4 separate regions of the Homo sapiens genome follow, and regions 1, 2 and 4 are each reported to be linked to region 3. Evidence: microRNA targets listed by miRTarBase, many of them from high-throughput screens and not tested one by one. Region 3 holds a microRNA gene; each other region holds the end of a gene's coding sequence.

Evidence for each region. The annotated mature microRNA hsa-miR-4276 reads CUCAGUGACUCAUGUGC and lies in region 3 at 3,985-4,001, shown strand. An mRNA with a match to its seed (bases 2 to 7 or 8) in the 3' UTR can be bound and repressed. Matches are read on the target gene's strand: a 7mer-m8 pairs with bases 2 to 8, a 7mer-A1 pairs with bases 2 to 7 and ends in A, and an 8mer does both.
Region 1: miRTarBase lists ISCU as a target of hsa-miR-4276. Seed matches in the 3' UTR shown: 7mer-A1 at 6,358-6,364.
Region 2: the mRNA of DYNLL2 is a reported target of hsa-miR-4276. Seed matches in the 3' UTR shown: 7mer-A1 at 5,647-5,653 and 8mer at 2,974-2,981.
Region 4: miRTarBase lists LSM14A as a target of hsa-miR-4276. Seed matches in the 3' UTR shown: 8mer at 1,024-1,031 and 7mer-m8 at 2,500-2,506.

What each region holds. Positions count from the first base shown.
Region 1 is chr12:108,568,250-108,575,371 of GRCh38, reverse strand. It overlaps ISCU (iron-sulfur cluster assembly enzyme), which reads right to left. Exons shown (of 5, transcript NM_213595.4): 5 at 6,004-6,541. The coding sequence ends at 6,456. Among named protein-coding and RNA genes, the nearest start is that of ISCU, 9.2 kb to the right of the region's middle. RefSeq lists an enhancer at 6,287-6,436.
Region 2 is chr17:58,088,345-58,095,460 of GRCh38, reverse strand. It overlaps DYNLL2 (dynein light chain LC8-type 2), which reads right to left. Exons shown (of 3, transcript NM_080677.3): 3 at 1-6,319. The coding sequence ends at 6,182. Among named protein-coding and RNA genes, the nearest start is that of DYNLL2, 8.5 kb to the right of the region's middle.
Region 3 is chr4:174,419,821-174,426,942 of GRCh38, forward strand. It overlaps MIR4276 (microRNA 4276), which reads left to right and starts at 3,975; the gene lies at 3,975-4,044.
Region 4 is chr19:34,226,669-34,233,790 of GRCh38, forward strand. LSM14A (LSM14A mRNA processing body assembly factor) reads left to right here. Exons shown (of 10, transcript NM_015578.4): 10 at 697-2,620. The coding sequence ends at 720. Among named protein-coding and RNA genes, the nearest start is that of GARRE1, 24 kb to the right of the region's middle.

The DNA.
Region 1 (7,122 bases), not on the chromosome of region 3:
CGAGACCCCCATCTCTATTAAAATTAAACAACACATTTTGGCTGGGCCCGGTGCCTCATGCCTGTAATCCCAACTCTTTGGGAGGTGGAGGCGGGCAGATCACTTGAGGTCAGGAGTTTGAGACCAGCCTGGCCAACATGGTGAAAACCCATCTCTACTAAAAATACAAAAATTAGACAGGTGTGGTGGCACACACCTGTAATCCCAGCTACTCAGGAGGCTGAGGCACAAGGATTGCTTGAACCTGGGAGGCGGAGGTTGCAGTGAGCCAAGATCGCACCACTGCACTCCAGCCTTGGCGACAGAGAGAGAATCCACACGACAGGTGTGGTGGAAATAGCAAGAGAACTAGAATTAGAACTAGAGTCTGTAGATGAGGAGTTGTTTCTTATGGATAAACAAAGAAAATGGTTCTTGAAATGGAATCTACTCCCAGTGAAGATGCTGTGAACATTGTCGAAAGAACAATAAATGATTTAGAACATTACATAAGTATAATTGGTGGGCCTGGCATGGTGGCTCATGCCTGTAATCCCAGAACTTTAGGAGGCTGAGGCAGGTGGATCACTTGAGGACAGGACTTTGAGACCAGCTGGTCAACACGGGGAAACCCCATTTCTACTAAAAATACAAAAATTAGCTGGGCATGGTGGTGCACGCCTGTAATCCCAGCTACTTGCGAGGCTGAGGCACAAGAACCACTTGAACCCAGGAGGCGGAGGTTGCAGGGAGCTGAGGTTGTGCCACTGCACTCCAGCCTGGGCAACAGAGCAAGACTCTGACTCAAAATAAGGAAGGGAAGGAAAGAAAGGAAGGAAGGAAGGGAAAGGAAAGAAAGAAAAAGAAAGAAAGAGAAAGAAAGAAAGGAGAGAGAGAGAGAAGGAAGGAAGGAAGGGAAAGGAAAGAAAGAAAAAGAAAGAAAGAAAAAGAAAGGGGAGAGAGAGAGAGAAGAAAGGAAGGAAGGAAGGAAGGAAGGAAATAAATTTGGTGAAGCAGTGGCAGAGTTTGAGAAAATAGGTTCCAATTTTGAAAGAAGTTCTACCATGGGTAAAATGCTATCAACTAACACCACAGGCTGTAGAGAAATCTTTTGTGAAAGGAAAAGGCAATCAAAGTGATGAACTTCAGCGTTGTCTTATTTTAAGAAATTATGGCTGGGTGCAGTGGCTCGTGCCTGTAATCCCAGCACTTTGGGAGGCCGAGGAGGGCGGATCACCTGAGTTCAGCAGTTCAAGACCAGCCTGGCCAATATGGCGAAACACCATCTCTATTAAAAATAAAAAAAATTTGCCAGGCATGGTGGCACATGCCTATAATCCCAGCTACTCGGGCAGGAGAATTGCTTGAACCTGGGAGGCAGAGTTTGCAGTGAGCCAAGATCGATCGCAGCCCTGCACTCCAGCTTGGGCGACAGAGCGAGATTCCATCTCAAAAAAAAAAAAAAAAAAAAAAAAAAAAAAGACATTGCCACAACCACCTCAACCTTCTGCAACTCCCAGCCTGATCAGTCAGCAGCTGTCAAAATTGAGGCAAGACCCTCCACCAGCAAAAAGATAATGACTTACCGAAGCCTCCAATGACTGTTAGCATTTTTTTTTAGCAACAAACTATGTTTATATTAAGGTATGCACATTGGGTTTTTTTTTTTTAGATATAATGCTATTGCACACTTAACAGACTCCAGTTTAGTGTAAACATAAGTTTTATATGCACTGGGAAAATTTGTGTGACTCGTTTTATTGCAACATTTACTTTATTGCAGTGACCTGGAGCCGAACCTGCAACATCTCTGAGGTGTGCCTGTAATAATACCAATGCAAATAGTAATAGTGAAAATAGCAGTAGAGAAAGTACAGTCATAGCATGCAGGGGCTTGGGCTCTAGATCAAACAGCTCTGAGCTAGAATCTTGATCTTACCATTTGCTGACACATCATTTTACCTTTTAGTTTCTCTATCTGTAAAATGGGATATTGATAGTACTTTAGGATTTTTGTGAGGCAAATGAGCTGATCTATATAAAACACCCAGCAACAGTGCCTAGTATGTAGTCAGGGCTGAAGTGTTACCTGTAATAATGAGAACCACCATAACAGCAATGAACTATTTTTTTTTCCTTTTTCTTTCTTTCTTCTTCTCCTTCCTCTTTTTTTTTTTTTTTTTTTTAAGAGACAGGGTCTCACTCTCTCACCCAGGTTAGAGGACAGTGGTGCCATCACAGCTCACTGCATCCTTGAACTCCTGGGCTCAAGGGATCCTCCCACCTCAGTATCCCAAGTAGCAGAGACTACAGGTGCATGATACTGTAGTGTGCACGACAGGTGCACGACACCACAGCCAGCTAGTTTTTTTATTTTTTGTAGAGATGGGGTCTTGCCATCTTGCCCAAGTATTGACAATTGTTGCAAGATCTCAGTTCTTGCCTTCTTAGTTTAAAAGAATATAGACAAGAGACACACAGCAAAGGGGAGGTGCAGCATAGAGTAATTTATTGCAGAGGAAAAAGAACATTTTGAAAGTTAGGTACAGAAAGGACAGGACACCCTGAGAGAGACAGGATTTAGGGCAGGCTGCTCTTAAGGACAGCATTGATTATTGCTGGGAGACTCCCTTTGTGGGGGTTTTACATCATTATTCATAAGGGGTTGAGAGAGGTGTTACTAGTAAGCATGTTCTGGGTGGTCCTTTCGGTGCCCACGCACAGTAGCTGTACGTGCTTGTTCATACATTGCATGTCTCATTCGCATCTTAAATCTCCACCTAGGGGTGTGTTTTTTACTCTTTTAATGAGCAAAGGGTCAGTTTGAGGACAGCTAAATCAAAGTGCGCACACTCTCTAGAGGGGAAAGTCCCTACTGAAGATAGCTTTGCTTGAGCTTTGCTCAATTACAATGTGAATGCTGAGGCTTATTGTGTTGACTGTACAGTCATCACGGATGCTGCATCTCGAGGACATGGTCACTTCCTTGACTACCTCTCCTGCCTCACAGGCTGGTCTCTAACTGCTGGGCTCAAGCAATCCTCCTGCCTTGGCCTCCTAAAGTGCTGGGGTTATAGGCATGGGCCACTGTACCTGGCCAACAGTGAACTCTGTGTGCCATGTGCTTTCCATGTATTATCTCATTTAATCGTCAGGTCTACCTGATCAGGTAGGTACTATTATCTTTCCCATTTTGCAGATGAATAAACTGAGGCTTGGGGAGGTTGAGCCTTTCGCTCAGGGTCACACAGCGGTAGCCAGCATTTGATTCAACACTCCAAGCTCACTCCACTCTGCCCTGCTGCTTGCTCCCTGGGTGGAGATGATCTTCTCTGGGGAGGTGGCCTTTTGAGGGGCTGGCTGATGTCATCTCGGGGGGTGGGGAAAGCAAGCAGACAGGCCTCCAAGAGCCATTGGCAGGGGATGTGCTCCACGTCCATCTTTGGTTGGGGCTGGAACTCATCTGTAGGGGCCCTCTAACACCACCAAAACTTGGTGGGACCTAGAAGTCTTCTCTTCTGTCGTGAAGATAGACACAAGGTCTGCACTCTTGCCTCAAGTTCAAAGGGCCTGAAGTATCGAGAAGTGTGCCTCATTTGTTTGTCTTTTTAAGAAAATTCATCCTAGGGCCAAGTAGTTTTTACAAGACAATGCTTAATGTGAGGTTCTAGAACTGTGCATTTGGATGTGGTCCCGGGTGGCCCTGGTCCAGGAATCACACTTAGGAAAGGTTACATCCGAGATGTGGTCATAGCTGTAGTGTGGCACTCAGGAGAGGGTGGGAGGTGGGCAGAAGACCTCAGCCAGAGCTCAATTCTACCACTTCCTAGCTGTGTGCCTTGAGGCAAGTCATTTCACCTCTCGGAGCCTCTGCTTCCCCATCCATCCATCTGCCCATAAACCCACCCAGCCCATCAGGTGATGCCAGTGCCCAGGCCCCACCTCCAGAGCATTGGATTTAACTTGGCATCAGGATTTAATTAGGCTCCTGGTGGGAGCCAGGGTTGGCGTGAGGGCCATGGTGCTTGGCAGCCAGTTGGCCAAGAGAATGCATCAGGCTCAACCTGTGTTGGTTCAGCTTCTTCATTGAATGTTCAAGGCACAGGTGAGCCTCTGATGTGCAGTTTGAATCCCTGGTGTGTTCTGCCAGGAGGGGTGAGGCAGAAGAATGGGCTTTGGGTCACTCAGATCAAGCCAGTTGGCCTGAGGGTCAGTTGGCTTCTTGAGCCAGTGTCCTTGTTTGAATCAATGCCCACTGCAGGCAGCTGTCATGAGAATTAACAGGATTACAGATGTAAGGGCCTGGAACAGAGCACAGGTGCTTGACAGACCATTTTAACTTATCTGTGGAGGTTTTCCATGGACAGGTTTATTTAGAGATGCTAAGACCTATTTGGAGGCTGCAAAAACCCCTAGACTTGAGTTCACTGAAGGGCACATGATGCCCTCATGTGGCTCAAACTAGATTTGTTTGGGGAAAGAGTGTCTTTAATGTGAATTTAAAAAATATCCATTTGTTTTAGCAGTACAACCACGTTTAGAGACTTGGGCTCTTCTGGGAATATTGCTTTGTTTATAAGCTCCTCCTGATGTTCAACTCTGAGGATGTTCACTGGGACAGAAATGTCTCATTTAAATTAAAAAAATCACAAAGAAAAGTGGTGGGGAATTGTGGTGGTGCCACATGTAATAAAGAAGGGAGAGACAAGCTCAGTCTAGAGGGACTGTGAATTAAATTGCAGAACATGCCACACAGGACAATTTTACATGGTTCTACCCAGGGTTCTAATTTGAGATTCCTATAAAGGCCCTGGTCTGTGGCTGCCTTCACAGACTACAGAAGGAACAGTCTTTGAAGTTCTGTGCCCTCCACCAGAACCCAGAGCATTAAAACAAAAAAACAAAAAACAACAAAAAAAACAAGGGAGGTATATTTAAGAGGCAGCCAGCCTATACCTGAACAAAAAAACCACCACCAGAAAAAACAAACACATCTTACTTTTGAAGCTGAACATTTGAGACTATGGCAGTCAATATTTCAATAACCCATTTTCACTAGAAGATAGGGCATCCTTTATTGAGATTTGCATGACTATGGGTAGCTAAAAATAGGGAGACATCAGGGTAGGAGGGCCCGTGCTTAGACTTATGCCCAAGCCAGGGATGAATGTTTGTTTGTTTGGCTTTGAGACGGAGTCTTGCTCTGTCTCCCAGGCTGGAGTGCACTGGTGTGATCTTGGCTCACTGCTACCTCCACTTCCCAGGTCAAGTGATTCTCCTGCCTCAGCCTCCCGAGCAGCTGGGATTACAGGTGCGTGCCGCCATGCCTGGCTAATTTTTGTAATTTTAGTAGAGATGGGGTTTCACTACCTTGGCCAGGCTGGTCTTGAACTCTTGACCTCGTGATCCACCCGCCTTGGCCTCCCAAAGTGCTGGGATTACAGGTGTGAGCCACTGCGCCCGGCTGGATGAATGTTTTTTAAACAACCTTAGGTGTACTATGCAGGTACAGATAGTTCAGAATGAACCACTTAAGATACTACATCTATGCAGAACACAGCATTCAGAAGTTTCTTCCCTAAAGTTTGGCTCATCTACGACCACAAAAAACCCAAGAGGTTCTTAAAAGTCAGGGGCTCTGGAATTACCTGCCCAGACAGAAGTCAGAAACTTGGGCCTAGAAATCCGCATTTTAAACTCATTCCCGAGGTGCTCTTCATGTATCTGGTCTACCGCTTTAGGGTGCCAAGCTAATGCTTTTTAGATTTGAGCAACCAGTGAAATTACAGAAAGAATCTTCAAGACTTACTTTGAGCTTTCAACTACTATCACACAAAGAACAATGACAAGCGATAATCATCTCCTTTCATCCTTGTTCCAAAAAATATTACGTATATTTGTCTTTGTTTGCTTGGAGAGCTGTGTATGTCACTGCGGTCCAACCTCTGGGAACCCCAAGGGGCTTTGGGCACCACTTCAGGGTGAATGATGGGCCCAAGAGACAAGGCTTACTAGAGAACACCATCATCTTCCATTATTTTATTATTTTTTATACATATATATATATGCGCAATCTGTTTTATGTACAACAATTGGTTCTATCAAATATTCAGACCAAGGCATTCTACTGGTAATTTCCCCCCAAATCAATTCAGGTAAAATTAGATACTTATGCACTTCACGGGCTATCAAAACTTGCAACTTCATTATCAATTTCAGTTCTGAGGTCATACACACAATTCAAAATATACATTAACTAGGTTAAGGCGATAAAAGTGGGCTGAAAGAAACCACAGGATTCAGAACAATGAAACTGTGTATTTTGCTTGCATGAGAGTCATAACGTGAACAGCAAGTATTGTGCGTATCTCATAGCTCTTCAGTGGAGAGGAAGCGGCTTCTGAACATCTAAGGTGACTGCACAGCAGGTGGGAAACAGCTGGTGTGGCCTGCTGGAGGCTTCGCCGAGGGAGGGCTCATTTCTTCTCTGCCTCTCCTTTTTTGGGTTCTTGTTTCAATTTGTAATCAGCCAGGGCGGCCTTGATTGCATCTTCAGCCAGCACTGGAAGTAACGGAAGGAAAGAAGCCTAAGTTTCTAGATGTGAAAGAAATGGACTTGGGAATAGAATCTTTAAGAGCTGGGAGGAAGTGGTGCTGGTGGGGACTAATGGAGTAACCAAGCCAGAAAGCTGGGGTGAGGAGTTGCTGGGCACGTCAGCAGCTGCTTCCTGAGCTGAGTTACTCCTGCGGGTGATCCTGGAGACAGACTAGGGTTAAAAATCTGTGATCCCAGGCTAGTTCCTTAGCCTCTTTGACCCTACTTTCTCTTCTATAGAACTGGGATAATCATGCTTTTCTTGCCAGGATAGTGTGGGGACTTACAGAAGATGTCTGACACATAGTAGGGACACAGGAAATGTTACTTCTTGCCTGCTCCCATCAAAGTCTAGCTTTGGACAAAATCTTGTCATGATAAAAAAGTTGACATGCCCTTTGGAAAAAAGATCATGTCAATCTGTTGATGGGATGGCATTTGCCACATCACCCTCTAGTGATCGAGAGTTTGACCACTTTTATTTAGGAGTCAATATTCAAAGTGAGGCTATGGGGAAAATAAAAACTGAGAGAGCTGGAATGACAGCA
Region 2 (7,116 bases), not on the chromosome of region 3:
CAAGGAAGGTAACCCCGTAGCTGGAAGACAGAGGTGGGAGGGAGAATTTTTGCTTTTTGTGCCTTTAGAATAATGTATCATGTGAATGTGTCATTTAGATTAAGGGTTGGTATACTATGGTCCACAGGCCCAATCTGTCCCCTGCTTTTTAAAAGTTTTATTGGAACATAGCCATGCTCATTTGTTTACATATTATCTATGGCTGCTCTCACACTGGAATGGCAGAGTTCAGAAATTGTAATCTGTATACCTAATGTCATGGACCACAAAGGCTAAAATATTTACTGACTCTTTACAGAAATGATTTGCCAACCTGTCTAGATTTTTTAAAAATAGAAAACTGACATTAAAAATAAAAGATGCCCCAAGATAATTGAAAACATATCTACACAAAAATCTGTACATCAATGTTCATAGCAGCACTAATCACAATAGTCAAAAAGTAGAAACAACCCAAACATCCCTCAACAGATGAATAAACAAAATGTGATATACCCACACGTTACTCAGCTAGAAAAAGGAACAAAGTACTGATAAATGCTACAGCACAAATGAACCTTGAAAACATGCTAAGTGAAAGAAGCCAGAAACAAAAGGCCACATGTACAATTGCATTTATATGAAATGTCCAGATTAGGCAAATTCATAGAGATATAAGGTAGGTCAGTGGTTTCCCAGGGCTGGGGAGAAGAGGGAATGGCAAGTGACTGCAAATGGGTACATGATTTCTTTTGGGGGTGATAAAAATGTTCTAGAATTAGATAGTGGTTATGGCTGCACAAATTCGTGTATATGCTAAAAACTGCTGAACTGTATACCACCACCAAGTACAGGGCAATCCAGAGTTCAGTACAGGGCTCAGAACCTAGTAAAAAATTAGTCCTCTCTGCCACTGCAAATCAAAATCAAACCTGGCCTGGGAGTCAGATCAAGTTCTGCATCCCAATTGTTGCGAACATCCATGTGACCTTAGACAAGTTTCTTCCCTATTTCCTTCCCTATAACATGGGTATAATTGAGCAGGGAGGGAGAAGGCTGGTGGTGCAATAGGGTGTGAGGGGGGGATTTTGTTCTTTCCCCAACTTTATTAGATACCCTAATAATCAGTATCATCATCATCATCATCACCCATTTCTAAGCATTTTCACATACATGATGTCATTTGATCTTTCCCCTTAGAAAAGACACATATTGTTTCCATCTTACAGATGAAGAAATCGAGGATCTGAGAGATCAAGCAGCTTGTCCACGTTCATCCAGTGGGTGTTGGAGCTGAGATTCGACTCCAGGTCTTCTGATTCTAGATCTTGTTCTGCCTACACTACCACACTGTTTTTGCATGTTTGCATTCTCTCTAGAAAGCCCAAAACAGCAGTGTCCAGCAGCCTCACCACAAACACTGTACACCTTTATCTGGGCAAAGGGAGGAAGGAGAGGCAGAACCTGGGGTTCTGCTGGTTCTCTTTTATCTTTCTTATGAACCTCTATATTGGCACAGTAGCAGTCTGTGGGTAGGAGTATTCACGCACATTGATGTGGACACCAAGCCCACATACATCACAGAGAGAGACACACAGGTACACCTGACCTCAACAGGCAACAGGTCATACTTGTTACTAGGGTAGTGAAGGGGCTATGCTTTTTGTTTAGGGGAGGCCCAAGAGGTCAGAACTCTAGGCGTCTGCTCTCCTTTCTAATACCAGGAGACCCATCTCTCCCAAAGGCCTTAAGGAGGAAGAGGTGGCTCCTTAATCCTTAGTAGAGAGGAGTAAGGAGGAGGGAGAGAGGAAAGTATCCTCGCTGTCCTTGCTAAACCAGAGCCCCAAGAGAGGGAACATCAGGGATTCACTACTAAGAGATCTGGGCCTACATCTTAAAGAGTATCCATGAGACCCTTGCTGCCAAACCCAGTTAAGCCTTTGTGCATCACAGTGCTAAGTTCTAGTAATGCCACCAGCTACATGGGCTTTGCCACTCACCTTCTCTGATTCAGTTTGCTTATCCAAAAATGTGTCTAATGATTACTGAGTCTAGCTCAGGGGGGCGCTCTCAGGTTTCAGCAACATAAACTGAAATGCTTTAAAAATAAAATGCACTTTATGAACACACTATTTCATCCTCCCATACTGCCAAGCAAGAGTGGCTCAGGCACTCTTGCTTGAATACACCTGGGAGTGACCCTCTCACGCCTTTCAAGGTGGCAAGGCTTGGGCAGCAAGGAGAGCCGTGCCTAAGGCAGCCATTCTCTTCAGAAAAGGCAAGGCTGCCCTGGGGCACCAGGCCTGTCCAGGCTTGCTCGCACCCTTCTTTTTTCATTTGAGCAATCTGTATGTATCAAACACTTCCTACAGGACAGGCACTGTTCTGTTTACTTGAAGATAAGCAGTTAAGAGAAAAATGCTCTCACAGAGCTTATATTCTAGTTGTCACAGGCCAGAAAGTAAACAAAAAACAAATATGTCAAGCGTTGGCAGATGCTACGTGGAATTAAACTGGGTAAGGATAACAGCGATGGGGGAGAGGTGCTATCTTGCACAGGATGTCAGAAAGCCTCTCTGATAAAAGGATGTTTGAGCAAAGACTGAAAGGAGGTGAGAGAATAATTTAGCGGGGAACCACACCTTAAATCTAGTCTGGAGGACACTAGAGTTCAGGGAACAGAGATCGACAGTGCCACAGCAACAAAGAAGATTCCCTACCATGCTGGTTATTATCCATTTGCCTCCCTTAGATTGTCACCACCTTGCCCTTTCCTGCTGTTCCCAGTGGGGAGGGGGACTGAACCCTACAGACTGCATCCTGGGTCTGCCTTGTCATCTGCCATTTGGTTGGGTTCAGTCAAAGGGGGTCCCCAGAAGACTGGAGAACAGGATACAAGGAGCAGGGATATTGATGCTCCTATGGGCACAGTTCTAATAATGGCTGCATTGTTCCGAGAGAATTCCACAATTTCCATCTGCTTTCCACAGTCCCTTCAGTGACACATGCTCACATACTTTCCCATCCTGGGCCCCGAAAAGTGGAGGCTCATCTCCTCCAGGAAGCCCTGCAGGATTAGTCTTCCAGATGAGCACTGTGCACCTACCTGTGCAGGAATGTGTTGTTCACAGATGCCACCTGGACTGCCTCTTTCATCAGGGAAGAAAGTAGATGAGCTTTGGCCCTGGAGACACTCATCCCTGATGAAATGTGAACTGTGGCCTCACTCTCCCTCCCAAAGCTCCAGCTCTGTCAAATTACTCACGACAGCTAAAGCAGTAACAGAAGTTGGGGCTCTAGAGTCTCTCAACTTAATCCCTTAGGACCTCACTGCCCCAGAGGTAGAACTTCTCCCCAAGATCAGCCAACCACCTTCCTAACTGGAGGAACCCTATCTACCTACCTCCAACACTCAATAGCTCATTGCCCAGTTCATTTCCTTGATAACACATTTATCACTATTGGAAAAAGTTGATCAGTGTGTGTATGTCTGCTCTACACATAAGAATGTGTATGTCATAGAAGCCTAGAACTTACTTGTCTCATTCTCCTCTGTGAACAGCATCCTAGGCCCAAGCATACAAGAACTCTTAAATATTTTTGAGTAAAGAAATAGTAACACAAAGAGGGCAAAGCACCTCTGGCTCCCTAACACCTCCAAGAGAATTGCAGTCACACGATGGTGGAGTCAGGGGTGGGCAGACACTCTCAGAAGTCTTGGCACTGCTGATTTCTCGAGTTGTGTGTCTGGGCAACAGAGGATTCAGAGAATCACTTAGGTTCCACCAAAAGAGGTGCCATCTTTCTAAATATCCCCAGCTTTCCATTTCTGAGTGGCCAGACCCTTTGCTAAATAGTCTCCAGGTTCAGGAAAGCCGAGAAGGGAGGAGTATGAAAGATAAGAGCTTTGGGCAAAAGTTGAAGCAGCAAAGCTCAGGCAGGTCCATGACGGCAGCTGGGAAGGTAGCAGTTACTATCCCAAAGACACAAAATATGATTCACCTGGCCATCACCACCAAGGAAGGCAGAACCCAGGAGCCCTTAAGGGTGAGTGCTGCTGGTTAGTTTTCCTCTACTTAAGGGGCATAAGCCTAGGCACAAATAAGTGCTGCTACAGGCCAATCAGTATCTAGTGGCTGGTCTTCCCTTCAGTCCCCATTCTATTCCACCCTGGAGACTCTCCACCCTCACCCACTGTGTGGCACCACTGCCACCATGCCAACCCCTCATCCCCAAAGAGACCCAAACAGTGCAGAGGTGCATCAATCAACCTTTAATGTCCAAAAGAGGCGTGGATGCAGAGCATAGGAGATGTGGCAGGGTCTCAGGCCCTGCTCCAGAAATGAGGGAGAGATGAACACAAACCAGACACTTTCAACTGGCCACACAGTCTGGGAGGGCAGGGGGAAACACAGATTTGGACATTCATAAAAAAATAAAACCTAAAATCAAGCACTCAATTTTGTGCCCACTGAAGGGTTTGATAAAGGGAACTCAGTCACCACCCAGGTCTCCCCTCCCCTGCCAACATCACAAAGCAAGCTCGGCACACACTAAGGGCTTAGGGAGGGGTATTCTCCTGCCTCCCCACCAGCCCCAAGAATGGACTTGAAAATAAAAGAATAAGCTGGATCCCCCACCCCCCCACATTGTCAACCCTACACGAGAGTTTTGAAGGCGACTCATGAAAATCAGCAGCTCAAACGGCAATGACCACCCCACCCCAAACCCCACCCCACTCCTATTTCATTAACAGACAAGATTTCCCCTGCATCCTCCTCAGAATCTCCTCCTCTCACAGCCCTGCTCCATCTCCTATGTCCTGGCTTCACCACTGCAAGACTGACCTCCTCCAAGGCTCCCAGAAGCTCCTCTTAGCTCTTTATCACTTCTATCCTCACCTCCCACCAGAGACTGCAACCATCCACAGTCACTGTCCCTCTGCACTGAGACCCAGCTCCAGAGCAGATGGCAGCATGGTCATCCTGTCCTGGGTGGTCCTCCTAAAGCCTTCCCAGGGAGCAGACAGCCAGAGAGCAAGCAGAGTGTCTGGGCTAGATGACAGCAAGGAGGGGACACCTATCTTTATTTTCAAAACAGATATCCCCAGAGGCTTTTAGCATAAAAGCCCACTTAGAACTAACTGTGCCCCCTACCTACCCATACACCCTAGAGATTCCACACTGTCCTGCCCCCTCCCTCCCTTCTACCCCAAACCCCACACACACATACACACACATATACACACATATTCACACATATACACAGAAGAGTCAAGGGAGACATCAATTTGGTTTGATTGCTAAGACCTAACTAAGGAACTACAGTCACCAGAAATTCCCTTGCCAGCCAACTAACAACAGGGGCTGCTCTAAGAGAACTCCAGAGGAATGAGGAAACTGAGGGCTAAGCAGGGAGCAGACAGGAGAAAAATGTAAAGAAAAAAAAGATTCAAGCTAATCCTACCCCAGCATCCTCCTGTCATGATCTCTGGCAGGAAGAACAAAAGAAGGTAATCCACAAAGACACAGCCCTTACTTAGAAATTCTGACAAAGACAGCAAGACAAATCTGCTCCCCACTCCCACACACCACAGACAAACACATCTCAGGGCCCCTAAAGAAGGCATCCCCACCCCACCCTCCGCCCCAAGCCATAGAATCACAGTTCAGTGGAATATTCTCCCTGGTACTAGATCAATCCCTCCACCTTCCTTCCTACCCCTTTTTCCTTGACAATCCCAACACTGTCCCCCTGCAGCCTCCCTGGCCCTCCCAAAGCAGCATCCACCGCCAGGAAGAGGCAGCTGCACAGTTTTAGTTCCACCTCCAGAGACCTATTTCTTTTCCTCAGCCCTCCTAGTCTTTCGGCCGCCTAGTCTCTATGGTGGGCCTTTTATTTTGTATAGGGAAAGAAAGAGAAAAGGGAGAGGTGGGAGAGATTTCCTAGTGCAATACAACCAAAAAATATTTTTAAAGTCTTGAAAAATAAACATAAAGCAGCCTTCTTCCCCCAGGCAACTAAACAGAAAGAGGTTTGGTTTTGTTTACTGCGACATACACATGAAATCGAGTATACAGTCCATGCAGTAGCACAGCCATTGGAGAGGACATCCTGATGCTGGCTCCAGTGCAAAACAGTCCCAGCAACGCCGCCTGCTTGCCATCGCTGCCGCCGCCACTGACACCTTCACCATGGCCACCTAGCCTGACTTGAAGAGGAGGATTGCAACTTGACCCAAGTAAAAATAGATGAAGTGCTTTGTCTCGTGTGTGACGTAGCTGCCAAAATTTCGGCCCACGATACAATGCCAGGTAGGGTTATATTTCTTGTCAAATTCCTAAAAAAGAACAAAGGTAGAGAAGAAAGGTAATTAGGGTAGCTGGAGAAGGAGAAATCAGAATGGGAGTCTCTCCCTGCAACTCCAGCACCGACACGTTTGGTTGTTATCACCCCCACCCCATCCCTCAGCCTCAGCTCCCCGAACCTCAAAAGCTCAGGTTTTAAAGCTGGCCAGGACACTCTTCCCCTCATTAATAATGGAACACCACAAAGCCTCCATTATTCGTCTCCCCTGAGCCTCCAGCACTCTACACCCTGATCATCTCTCCTCCCTCTAGCTACCCCACCCCCTCACGCCACCCCTAGCCCACCCTGGGATTCTTCAGCAAGGGAATCAAGAGGCCAGTGGAATAAAGGACCATTTGTCAAACACATGACACAAATGGGGAGCCACCACCCGCTGCCTCACACATAATTAACCAGCATTTCCAAATGCTAAACACCAAGGCATTAGAGCAAAACAAGACCAAACATCGGGAGTACCAGGAGGCACTACTATATAAGACAACATTAAAGGCATTCCCGTGTGCCATGCACTGTGTGGGCTGTATGTACCAGAACAAGGACCTCCACCATGAGATCAAGGCAATTCCCTAAGGGGCACAAGTTCAGCATCAAAACCACAGGAAATCTTTAGAGCTAATCAGCTCCCTACTACCTTGTGGCTCAGCCTGCAGACTCAGTTCTAGAAGCATCCTGCCATGGCCATGAAAGGGCAGCAGCCCTCCACCATGGGCCCACCAACGCTGCCAACTCTGGGGTTCTATCCCTCAATATGCTCAACATACAACTTCT
Region 3 (7,122 bases):
GAGACATGCTATATTCATATAATATATCTGATGTATAAAACTCATAAATAAGGTTTGCCTTACTTTAAGACTTAGATTTATTGGGGGAACCAGATATCCTAATGACTGTCAAGTTTTAAATTTTATGATTCCTCTCTCTGTCTTAAATTCCAAATCCACATTTCCCTGAATCTACTTAACTATATGATTATGTCTCACAAGCAGTTCACACTCAATGCATAGCTATATGTATTATCTTGCTTCCTATATACAAGTGAGTACAATCATTATAATACAACTTTCTAAATGTCTACTTTAACCTATTTTACAAATCTGAAAAATCATAATAATAACACCTATCTTCTAAATTTGTGAGAATTATATGAACTAATATGTGTACAGTGCTTTGTAGAGACCAGCGATTTTCAGAATTATTTTTATTGCCCCCTTTAGCAACGTGTTCTTGGTTACTATATTTATATTTCCTTCCTGTCTCTCAAATTTTTTTCCATCTCTCTTCTTCTTCCTGCCACTTCCTTGGTTATGTTTTCTCATCTACATTATTTCACAAACCACCTACCTTATCTTTTGGCCTGCAAACCAGACCATACCCTGTATGCTCAGCGTATCCTCTACGCTGCGGGAAGAGTGACAGCAAGAAAGTTAAATGCTGATTTTATCACCATGATTCTTCAAAATCCCTCAACTCTTTGCAAAAATAAAAGATAACACCCATTGTCGGTAAGCATGCTAGAAAATGGCATCTCACATGCCATCATAGGCATGAAAATTGACATTTTTTCAGAAAGCGACTTGCCTCTATACCAAACCCTTTCAATAGTACTTCTTGCTTGACCCAGCAGTGCCACTTACATGTATAATCCTGAACTAAAGGAGAAAATGTGCTCTGGATTTCTGGCAAAGCTTCCTTTAAGAGCAAAACCCTTTTTCAACAAGTGGTCATACGCTAGGAGAAAAACAATAGGAAATAATAATAATAAAAAAGAGAACTACCTTTACTGGTGCCAAGAGTAGAAAACAACAATCACATACCATAAAATCAAGGAAATATCATCCAAATCTAGGGAAAATTTAATTATCCAGAAGGCACCAAGACTGAGAAAAGAATGCATCATTGTGGAAAATAAGTGGAGAACATTTTGGTGACAGTTGGGAGAAGTATCGTTGGTCCCAGCTGACTTGGGGGACAGTCTCATTTGCTGCCCATGGCCTCAGATCAGTATCACTGCAAGGCTGTTAGAAGCACGGCTGTGGAATAAAGCATGTAGTCAAGCCACACAATTCTTTGCTGACAGAATTTGAAGTAGGTTTAATTTTCTTCTCTATGTTTTCCCCATTTTCAAATTTCCAAAGATGAAAAATTAATTTGACAGCAAAAAAACAAAAAACAATAAAAATAATGGTGGCTTCTTAATTCCTTATTTTAATGGGCAAAGTTATTCCCTCTCTGTTTATACTCCAGATATTCCACATGTGCTAAAACATTTAGAAATCTTCTAAAATACGATATGTTCTTTTTCCCTTCCATATCTTTGCAACTACTTTCCCCTGCAACCGTCTAGGGAGTTCCTTGTAATTATATGTCACTCAACTGAAAATTTACCTTCTTTATGAAATATTCTGTGATGTCTGTGTGCATGATTACATATTTCCACTTTTGTGTTCCCACTGTACTCTGTCAGCATCTAAGTTGTGGTACTCACCACACCAGTAAATTTCTGTGTACATTTCTCTCTCCTGTACCATGAGAGCTCTAGGACTGCAGGAATTGTTATTTTAAACTTTGTATGGAATTTAGTAAATGCTTATTGAATCAACTCATAAGAAAATTGGATGCTAATATTTTACTTTCTTCAGTTTCCTCATTGGGTTTAGTGGAGAAATTTCTCACAATATTGCCTGAAGGACAAGTTTGAGTACAGGTACATTATTCTTACATATTTTTTCTTTTTATATTTGTCATTATATGTCCATTTCCAGTGAATAAGTGTTTAATTACATTTGTTCATTCCATATTCACATTCCATTTACTGTTCAGAATGTGGAGATCATGTTTCTTGTGTTTGACTTGCTTCACACATGGGAGAAGTTGCATGCATGTGAATTCACTTAAATTATTTCACAAAGCAGAAGGGCACGGTGGCTCATGCCTGTAATCCCAGCACTTTGGGAGGCTGAGGTGGGTGGAACACTGGAGGTCAGGAGTTTGAGACCAGCCTGGCCAACATGGTAAAACCCTGTCTCTACTAAAAATACAAAAATTAGCCAGCATCGTGGCACAGGAGCTGCCTGTAGCCCCAGCTACTCAGGAGGCTGAAACAGGAGAATCGCTTGAACCCAGGAGGCAGAGGTTGCAGTGGGCTGAGATCGTGCCACTGCACTCCAGCCTGGGGGACAGAGCAAGACCATGTCTCAAAAAAAAAAAAAAAAAAAATTCACAAAGTGATGACTGCATTTTCATTCCATCAAAAATAAAAATTATTAGAGTTACTAATTGTATTATTTATCAGATGTGGAAGCAAAAGGATTTTCAATTCACTGTGCAGAGGAGGTATGCTTATAGAGACTCAAGAAAACAATCTGATTGTTTTAATTTTTCTCTAAGCTCGCCTGCCAAAAAAAGAATTCTGATCTGGCTCTTAGATTTTAGTAGATTAAATTTATGGAAAACAGGAATATGGTCCTATGCAAAATGTTCCGGTAAAAGTTTTTATGCTGATATTGAGTGAATTTTAAGCTTATTTAGTCTAAAGTAAAACACTAAGTTTTTTCCAGAACCTCAACTAAACCCAAATATTTGGAGAAAAAAAAGGAAGCAAAAACAAATGTTCAATTGTATGACAGAAGTTAATTTCAAAAATGAATGATGAAAGATGTTGACTTTTTTCTGTTATAACAACATATAACATATAATATTATAGCAGTAATATTATAATGACATAATTGTTTTCATTTCTTTTAACAAAATCATTAAATTGGTCCTTTCCACGCTTTACTACAAACTCTTTCAATTGTCTTCCATTTCTTTGACAAGCTAGAAGGGTCTAGATGTTTCTCATGTGGTGAGCCCTGTCAAACACTTTTAAGTTTGCATTTTTTTCCAGATAAATGTAACAATACCCATAAATCACACTTATTTGGATTCTTATCTAATATTGCATTGCAATAATTGGAAATAAGGCAAAAGCTTTTTGGAAGGTATGCAACACTTTACTCTCAAACCTCAGATAAAATCTAAAACCTGTGTGAGACTAAACTGAAAAGAGGAAGAGGGAAAGAAGGAAACATATTCAATGGAGGACACTGTGCTAAAATGTAATTTTACATTTCCATTGAATCCTATTTTATCAAAACCTGCATTTTTAGTTTTAATTTTGATTCATAGTGTGATTTGGGAATCATTGAAATGACACATGTTAAAGATTACAATACAAATAACACAATTTGCACTTCCAGTTTGCAGAATTTCCGATTTGGCAGTTTGCCAGCTCTTTGAATCTAAGAGAAACAGGGAAACAAAATTTCTGCAGAAGTGTTACTTCTTTCCAAAACATGATCCAGACATTCATAGAACCATTGAATTCGCTATTGCTATTCTGACTACCGGAGAAATACAACCTTTTTGCGTGTGTGTGTGTGTGTGTGTATATGTGTGTGTGTCATGTGACATTTGGCATTGGGGCTGGTGGAGGAAGATAAAACAAAACTGCATGTCTTGCCTGTTTTTCTGTTGAGTCTGACATCTGAGGTGTAAATTCAACAAAAATTAGACATCTCCTTAGATAAGATGACTCTAAATAAATATTCTATTTATAGTTCTCTGCTGACATAAATATAGCTTGCTTAATCATGCACGTATCCTGGAATATGTGTAAAGCCAATTTTGCTAAAGTGATTAATTTGTAGACTGTGTATTTTTTCTTATGTGTTCCTTGAGTCAATGAGTTAAATAATGGGATATGCTGTGGGCATGTCACAGTCTGACTCAGTGACTCATGTGCTGGCAGTGGCCACGTAAATAGAGCTACTGTGTCTGAAAGCAATGGGTAGCTAGAAACCTTTTTGACAGCTCATATGAAAACTTAAAGAATTTCAAAACAGGCTGGGTGTGGTGGCTCATGCCTGCAATCCCAGTACTTTGGGAGGCTGGGGTGGGAGGATCATTTGAGCCCAGAATCTTGAGACCACCCTGGGCAGCCTCGCAAGACCCTATCTCTGCATGTAAAAACAACAACAAAAAATTATAATAGTAATAAAAAAGAAGTTCAAAACGAAAAATATTTGCAAGGATTTTGTTTCTGGGTTTTTTGATTTTGTTATTAGATTTTTAATTAAAATAGAATAAAAACCTGAACTTCAAAATCAAGATCTGCTTATTTGGAAATTTTGTCTGTTACTCAAGTCTGTCCTTTTAATTTTTCAGAATAAATTAATATTATCTATTTCTAGATCTCCTACATTGCAGTTTCTTCCAGATTAATAACAGTATATTTAAAAATTATTTTTCAACAGAGCAGTGTACCTTTGCCAGGCTGTAGTCCGACATGATAAGATAATGGAATCGTATGTTAAGCAGACTATCATCTTGATTCCAAGAATTCATCTAGGAAAATTACTTAACAATTGATGATTTTGAATTATTTATCCTGAGAGATTTTGCCAAATCCCAAAGTAAAAATCATTGGAATTACTAATAGTACTAGCAAGCATATGTACTACATAGGGTGCTAGGAAACCTACTAGCTTTCTAGCCTTGTTGACTAGGTTTAGAACCTCACCTCTGCCAGTTACAAACTACAAACTGTGTGAAGTTAGGTCTAAGTTCTTTACCTTCTTTATCTTCAGTTCCTTATTTATAAATAGATAAAGTACTAATCATACCTATAGGATTTTTTAAGATCAAAAAACAGAATGCTATTTTTAAAATTTTCCTTACACCATACCTAGCATAAGTAAATCCTCAATTTATAGTAGTTTCTGCTATATTTTTAAGCTCATAAACAAAAGGACATGTTGCAGTTACACCTATTAATACTAGATGGATCAATAAAAACAGGTATTTTAGCAAATATAAAACTTCAATAATGAAAATCATATAATGACTGAAGAGTGTTAGTTTTATGATTTTTTTTCTTTTCTTTTATTTTCTTTTTTTTTTTTTTGGAGACAGGGTTTCACTCTGTTGCTTAGGCTGGAATGCAGTGGTGCAATCACAGCAGGGTCTCACTGTGTTGTCCAGGCTGGTCTTGAACTCCTGGGCTCAAGTGATCCTCCCACCTTGGCCTCCCAAAGTTCTGGGATTACAGGTGTCAGTCCCTGTGCCTGGCCAGTTTTGTTGTATTATTGTTGTAAACATTTTGGCAATACTGGGACAACTTAATTTATCAAAAATCAACAAAATGTTTTAAGAGCTCTGTATTGTTTTTGGCTCAATTAATTTGGCTTAAAAGCAAAAGATTGAGTTACCTGGATATGTTTAATTCTACCATAAACTTATTTCATAAGGATCTGTGGGGAAGCTTTGTAAATTTTTGTTTCCAGTTATCTAACTTCAGAGATTATTTTTTTAAAAGGAAAATATCAGAATTTTCTATTTTTAATAAAGTAGAACAAGAATTTTTTAAACGTTTTATTTTACCATAATTTCAAGTTTTACAGAGAGATTATCCGAATAGAACAAATGATCCTCATTTTATTCTTTACCTAGATTCACAAATTATTAACATTTTTGCTCTGGTTGCTTTATCATTTACTCTCTTAATAAACATTTTTTAACCTTTCGAACAGTGTGTGTTTCCTAAGAAAAACACATTCTCTTGAATAACTAGTAAAATTACCAGAGTAAAAAAATATATATACCATTTATATAATAGGAATACCTCTTCCAGAGCCAATATTCAAATTTAGTCCATTATCCCAACAATGTCCTGTGTTTTTTTTCCTGGTCTAAAATTTAACTCAGTGGTAAGAATTGTGCTTAATCATCATGTCCCTGGAGTGTTTTTAATCTAGATTAAATCCTCAGTCTTTTCCCTTATAACCTTGGCAGCTTGGAGAGTACCTGTTATTTTGTGGAATGTCACTCAGTTTGGGTCTGTCTGATATTTCCTCTGTTTAGAACCAGGTCATGCATGTCAGATAGGGAAACAGACATGAGACTGTACTCTTCTCAGCACATCACATCAGCAGGCAACATGATGCTGGTCTGTCCCATGATTGGTGATGTTAGCTACGATTGATTGGCTAAGATGGTTCTGCTAGGTTTTTCCACTGCAAATTTTTTATTTTCCCCTTAGTAATTTATAATTAATTTGTGGAGAGATACTTTGAAGATACCTAAATCTTCTTTATTCCCCAAACTTTGACCTACTCATTTAAGTACTCATTGATAATTTTTGCTTACATCAATTTTTATTGTAATAGTTCCAAAATGGTGATTTTCTAAGTCTACCATCCCTTCTACATTTATTAGCTGACATTCCACTTAAAGGGATAAGATTCCCCCAGTACTAATTTAGTTTTTGTTCATTTATTTAGATTTGGATGGATTAATTGATTCTTAGAGAACTCAATGATTAATAATCCATCACCAGGATTATTATCAGGACTCTTTGAGCTATCTCTTCCTGGGGTTGGCTTTAACTCAATTGTCCCTTATCTTTCTTGTGCATTTTTTCAGAACCCCTTTTCTTTGTGGGAATGACTTCAGAAGAGCTTCGAAAGTTAGCTATGCTGGAATTTGGTGCTTATTTTTATACCTATGGGTAATTTTCACTTGTAATATTTTTCTGTCTTCTAATTTTGCCAAAGGTGAGAATTTTGTGTGGTTTTATTCTTGTTGCTTAGAGGTTGTTTGAGGAGATTTGGGTTCAGGCAGCTGTTATTCATATACCTCAGCTGCTCAGGACTCTTGGATGCAAAGACTTTCACCATCTGGCTTAACAGTTCCTTTAACGAGGAGGAATCGTCTTGTTTGTAAACTAACGTGAGAAACTATATTTCAGTATAATGTGAAAACTTAACAGCATGGGTTATAAGAAAATAAAAATGAAGAAGAGCTATATTCTTTGTGAAAGTGATGAACAAATATTAGAAAAAGAGTCGTAGCCAGGCGCCGTGGCT
Region 4 (7,122 bases), not on the chromosome of region 3:
CAGCAGTAAAAACCAGGTATATGGTAGCAGCTGGTCTAGAGGAAAATAAAAGCCCTTGGCTCCAGCCCTTTGTACAGGCCTTTAGTTTAGGGTCAGTCTCTCTGGAAATCTTGAGATTTTTATTGCTTCCTCACTGGTTACTTTTTAAAAATTCCCCAGTCAGCTTTCTACTTTTCAGAGCTTATTTCAGATTTAAGAGTTATCCTTGTAAAATTGATTTTTAAACCATTGCTTCCTCCTGGCATGAAATTTTGGAGAGAAATGTTATACTGACTGGGTATTTTATTGCTTAGTAAAGACATCAAAGACTTGGGGATTTTATGAAACTTGTTTCAAAGTATGTTGACAGTTGTATTTGATGAGTTTGACTATTGAGTTGAGGGTTTAAGTCCTATCACTGCTTTTAAAAAATTATTAGGGAGAACAACCAAAGATGAGGAAGTATGCCTGTATTTTGGGGTGGGGTTCACCACTGCATTAACCTCTACTGACTGGAAGATGCAGTCAACAATGAGGTACTACTGAGTATGGAAGTTATAGAAGGAGTTTCGTGGAAATGAGTGAGACAGGTTTTTCTATGAAAGTAAAAGTGGGGGAGTATATTTAAAGATAATTTAAAATAAACTTGAGCAAAGTAAAAAGAAAATAATACACCAATAATTTGGAACATGAGCTAAATTTTTTTTTCTTTTTTAGAAAGACAACAAAGTTGCTGCATAGTCTACAAACAAGTCTCTGAAAATAGGTGAATTTCTAGCTCTTCATGGTCCTGAACATTGATTTCAGTCTTTGCAAAGAATGAAGAAGTGAATTCGCTGTACATTTGTCACCAGCACTGGGTTTTTGTTTTTTGTTTGTTTTTCCGCTTAATTTCAAAGATAAAATGCAGTTACTTTTGGGGGTGGAAGGCTCATCTTAAAACATGAGCATTAAATATATTTGGAATAGCAGAAGGTTAAGTAATTTCTTATGTATAGTTAAACTAAAGCAGTACTTCAGTGGGACTTAACAAGTATTTTTTCATCACTGAAAGGTTTTTTTTTTTTATCACTAAATTGTATTTGGCAATTGCAAGTTGCCTGCAGATAGGGCCGTGATACTGTGTTTTGAGCCACAGAAGGTTGTGTGTGTGTGTGTGTGTGTGTGTGTGTGTGTGTGTGTATGTGTGTGTCTTTTTCCTCCTTTCTTTTGGGGAATCCTGTAATATGAGGTAGCTTATTTCGTCAATTAATTAGGGTGCTGGATGGTAGAGAATTTTGTCAGTCAACTATGTACACACAGTAAATACTGTTTCTTAGGCAAAGGTAACTTTTTTATATAGTTGTAAAATTCCATTATATTCCATTGCCAAAGAAACATTAAGAACTTTGTATAGCTGTATAAAAAGCAACTAATTTTTTAAAGAATAAACATTTTAAAGTCAGCAAACATACTGTGTCCTTGCAGAAGTTGATGTGCTGAGCAGCAGCCTTATGGGTGGGTCTTTTTTTCTTAGTTTTCCAGGCTTAACATTTTTGATTTTGTTTTTTAATGTTTGGAACATAAATGAAGATTTGATACATTATTTCATTATCTAAAAAGGATTAATTATTCATGCTCATTGTAAGAACTTCATTTTGTAGCAAATGGCATATCACAGGATCTGTCCAGATAATCGATATTTTCAGTATACAAATGTAAATAATCACAGATGAGAATGTACTTAGCTGTATTTTCAAATAAGTAATCTTCCCCCCTTTTGTAGGACTTTAAAACTAGGCATCAATGAACCTGTTTTTCCTATTATGCCTGGAATTTAGTCATGATACCTTGACTCATTCCATCATATTTCAAGAGGATTCAGAGTGCTAGAAATTATTTTGGTAGCCTGTAACACACGGCAACACTGGTCCTTGGGCCTATGATGACCCACAGATGACTCAGTATAGAGTTCATTGCTAATTATAAATTACTAGTGAATCTTTTTGATATTTTAAGCTCTAGTGGGAAAAATCTGGCCACTTTTGTGTTTTTATGAAGGCCATGGAATAAAAGGATCCAAAGATTTAAATATTTTTATCTAATATTTTGATTGTTTTCTTAACTTTCTCCTTAAAACATTCAGTAGTGATAAAGATATAGAAACTGCACTGTAGGAGAATTGGAATATTTAAGGCTGGTTGACATTTTTTATTTTCATTTTATATCTTTTGTATAGCTCTACAAGGCAGTGTTTTGTAATTTGGTTTCATTATGAAGATCCAGTACTTGGCAGCCATAGTTTAGACAATATTGTTCAGTGCTGTTTGCTTGCATGTTAACAACAAAACCTTTTAGAGGACCCACAAATCATGATATTGAACACAGTTCCGAGGCATTCAGAGCATCAGAGCAAGTACCATGGCAATACATGTGTAGACTGTTGGAGATGTCCCGGGCCAATTTCAAGAAAGAAAACTGTAAATACTAGTTCTACTTGCTCTGAAATTATGAGTTTATGCGTTTTCCCAGCCCTCCGAATCACTGACTGGGGCGTTTTGTGCCCCAGCAATAACTGGCAGCATGGCATACCTGCAGTACCCCTTACAATATTAAAGCAAAGTTTTTATTCTAAAACAGAATAAAACTGTTCAATAAAAAATGCTCGTCAAAGTTCTTTCTCTTTAAATAGTAACATTCTGTTTCAGTAGGAACATAATGAAAGGAATCTTTTAAATGGAAGAGCGGAATTATAATGTTTGTATTCCCTGTAATAACTATAAATCAGTTACTTTATTTCTAAGATTGAGTTATTGTTGCAGATGTTTAGGGAAAGCTAAAAGCCCCTTCCTTCCCCTCCTGTGTGTAAATAAAATACTTCTGAGATCAGATCCGTGACATGAGGAGATTGAGCCACCCAGGCACAGGCCAGGCTGGAAACAGCAGCCAGAACACACTCCCTGTGGGCAGACGCATGAAGAAGATGCAGAATCTGTCTATTAAAACAGTTCGCTCCAAAAGCTGGGCTTCATGTGATGGTAGGGCAAGAGGTCGGGAACAGCAGTGCAGCACAGTGGCTCTCGGTGGGGTTACCTGACATCCTAGGAACACAGTCATCTGTTGCTTAATAATAGCGACATGTTCTTATTTTTAAATAGCAATGAGGTCTCACTTCGTTGCCCAGGCTGGTCTCTAACTCCTGGGCTCAAATGATCCTCCCATCTTGGCCTCCCAAAGTGCTAGATTACAGACATGAGCCACCAGGCCCGGCCATGACACATTCTGAGAAATGTGTTAAGCAATGTCATCATTGTGTGAACATCAGAGAGTGTACTACACAAATGAAGATGGTATGGCCTACTCCACACCTAAGCTATATGGTGTAGCCTGTTGCTCCTCGCTACAAACCTGTACAGCATGTTACTGTACTGAATACTGTAGGCAGTCATAACACAGTGGTATTTCTGTATTTAAAACATATCTAAACAGAAAAAGTATAGTAAAAATACGGTATCATAATCTTTGGGACCACCATTGTATACCCAGTCCATCGTTGACCAAAACATCATTAAGTGGTGCGTGAGTACTGAGGAATGTGAGGGGATGTGTTTTGGTTGTCACAATCACTGGGGATCACCACTGGTATTTAAAAGTAAGGGCCCGGATGGTAAATGTCCTGTGCTGTGCCACACAATCAGTTGTCCAACCCAAAGTGCAGTAGTGCTCCTCTACTCTGAGAAACACTGGCTAAAGTCCCTCCACATGGAAAGACAGTAAGTGGGAAATTATTTCCTGCCAACTTGAAAAAAAAAATTTACTACTTAGGAAATTGTCCGCTTGGGAATATTAATAATAAAGGGAACTTACTTCCTGTAGCACATCAGCATTGTGGAAACATTACCACATAGGAGTTAGGGCTTCATCCTGTTCTCTGTCAGTGCTTCACAAATCTCTGATCAGAATCTACCAAGGAGCATTTTTAAGTACAGATTCCCAGGCCCAGAGAGTGATTCTGAAGTTCCCTAGTACAGCAGAACCCAACCTTTTTGGCACCAGGGACTGGTTTCACCAAAGACAGTTTTTCCACAGATGAGCAGGGGGTATGGTTTTGGGGTGATTCAAGTATATTTATTGTGCACTTTATTTCTATTATTACATTGTAATATATAATGAAATAATTACACAATTCACCATCATGTAGAATCAATGGGAGGCCTGAGCTTGTTTTCCTGCAACTAGATGGTCCCATCTGGGGGTGATGGGAGACAGTGACAGATCATCGGGCATGATCAGTGAGTGCGCAACCGAGGTCCCTTGCATGCAGAGCTCACGATAGGGTTTCCAACCCTATGAGAATCTAATGCTGCTGCTGATGTGACAGGAGGTGGAGCTCGGATGGTAATGCTCACTCATCAGCCCGCCTCTCACCCGCTGTGCAGGCTGGTTCCTAACAGACCACGGACCACGACCGTTCTGCTGCCCAGGGATCAGGGACCCCTTCTCTAGTAGGTCCTAGGAATCTTACTGATCCCACAGGTAGTTGTGATTAGCTAGGTTTGGGAAGATGACTGTACAACACCAAAGCTGGTTCCTGCTTTGGGGGTGTTGATATATTTTCCACAGTAGGATTATCTTAGCATTTTTCCCATCCTTCCAAACCCAGTATATCCAGATTGTGACTGGGGCATGAAGAGAGGGATGGGACTAAGTGGAAAGGAGGGAACAGTTTTGCAGGATGGAATCAGGGGAAATGGGGAGGTTGAGACTCGAGTTTCCTCCAGAGTTTGGGTGCTTTGAGTACTGAGTTTTATTTCGTTTTTATTCCTGGCATAGGGTTTGTGTTCCTTCTGTCTCTTAATTTTGCATGCCAGTTGTCCCTGCCTCTGTGGGTTCTCTGCCCATCAGAGAAGCCGCTCCTTCTGCAGGGCCCCTCTGTCCACAGCATGGCTGAGAAGCAACTTCTTTTCCTGAGAAGGGTTACTTAGGCCATCCAATCACATCTGGATTCAGTGTGTTGCAGGATCCCCCTGCCCTGTTAGTTCAGAGATTAAGCTGTTTTACATAGTAAAGGTGGGGAGAGTGTCATGGTATAAAGTAATCCAGGTGAATGGTCTCTTCCTGTAGGAGTGCAGGTGTCACCAATTTGCTTTAGTTTACCTGTCCCGACTGGTTTTGGGGTTTTTTTGAGACGGAGTCTCACTCTATCACCCAAGCTGGAGTGCAGTGGCGCGATCTTAGCTCACTGCAACCTCTGCCTCCCAGGTTCAAGTGATTCTCTCCCCTCAGCCCCCCGAGTAGCTGGGATTGCAGGCGTGTGCCCCCACACCCAGCTAATTTTTGTATTTTTAGTAGAGATGGGATTTCACCATGTTGGCCAGGCTGGTCTCGAACTCCTCACCTCAGGTGATCCACCTGCCTCGGCCTCCTGAAGTGCTGGGATTGCAGGTGTGAGCCACTGTGCCTGGCCTGTTCTGACTCTGTTTAAAAGATAACAAGTATTAGGCTGGGTGCGGTGACTCACGCCTGTAATCCCAGCACTTTGGGAGGCTGAGGCGGGTGGATCACGAGGTCAAGAGATCGAGACCATCCTGACCAACATGGTGAAACCCCGTCTCTACTAAAAATACAAAAAATTAGCCTGGTGTGGTGGCGGGCACCTGTAATCCCAGCTACTTGGGAGGCTGAGGCAGGAGAATTGCTTGAACCTGGGAGGCGGAGGTTGCAGTGAGCTGAGATTGTGCCACTGCACTCCAGCCTGGGCAAAAAGAGCGAAGCTCCATCTCAAAAAAAAAAAAAAAAAAACCACGTATTATTAGTAAAATTGAAATCAAACTTAGGGAAGTATCATAGTACCATTAATCTGTCAATCTGAAGATGCTAAAAGGAGATTTGCTTAGCAGGCTGCCTTGGCTTCTCCAAGATGGGGAGACAGACAACTTCTTGGAAGCAGTGTCCTCCAAACAGAAATTGGTCAAGGAAGGGAAGTGGGAGAGAGAGCTTTGACTAGCAGAGGCTTGGAAGCCAGCCAGCCAGCAGCCAACAGTGCATGTGTGCATTGGGAAGCTAGTGGTCCAGGGACCAGGCACTGCTCCTGTGGGATCCATCCCAGCCCTCTAAGGAGCGGTGCAAAGGTTCTTATCCTATTTATCGGAGCCAGTGTCCAGAAAAGGAAGCTTGTGGTTTGAGACATTCTGTAAATCCGGTTCCAAGAGCACGAGGTAGGACTCTGAATCCGATGTGGTTTCTGTTCTCGGTGATGGTGCAGAGCTGTGAGCCAGTGGTAGGGTGTCCTTTAAATTCCAGCTCAGTACACTAGTTAATGAACTTGGCTGACTGATAAAAATGTTTTCAGGTTTAGCTCATGAACATATCAACATAGACCTAAATATAATTCCAGTTTGTCATGAATGTTGATTTTTTGAGGAAATGCTTTAAAATGTACTGATGCCCATGTTGTGGTTGTAAGGAAACAAAGCAGCTCTGTGAGGCCAAAGCATATTTCAGTTCAATAGTGAGGCTTTCTTAGAAAGAATGACTCATAGTCACTCAGAGTTGAGTCGCACAGAAACAACCGAGAGCAGACAGCAAGGAACGGCAGGGCCCAGAAGGTCCAGCCTTTCCCTCCAGGCTGAAGGGTTAGGGAAGATCGCCAACCTTAAAGGGGGTGTGAGAGGCCTGGGCCCAGGTGAGATTGTACTGAATTCCAGTAAACAGTGTACAGTCATTCCAGGACAGAGGACAGGAACATGTTTACTAGGTGTCTGGAGTGCACCTCTATAATCCTCATACACACTAATCCAGATAATCCTGGGATGCTGGCCTCACGCAGGATTGTTGATGAGAATGCAAATCCCAACATTGCAATTCAGGATTTTGCTTCTACTGAAAGCATTTTGTCAATGTTCTCTTTTGGGGTTAGCTGGGTGACAGTTCTCCCTTGCTGGATTCCCAGTACTTAATAGCGTTTCTTTGACTCAGTGGATATGTGGAACATTGCAGACTGCAATTTATAACACAGAACTGGGTATATATTTTCATTATAAAAGTAATACATGTAAAAAGAATGCAGGCCTCTTCTCTGATTGGGTGGTATTTTTAAAAAGAAACAAAGAATGCAGGCAGTGTAGATTATGTTTGTTTTTTAAAGGAAAGAGAAGAAAAAAT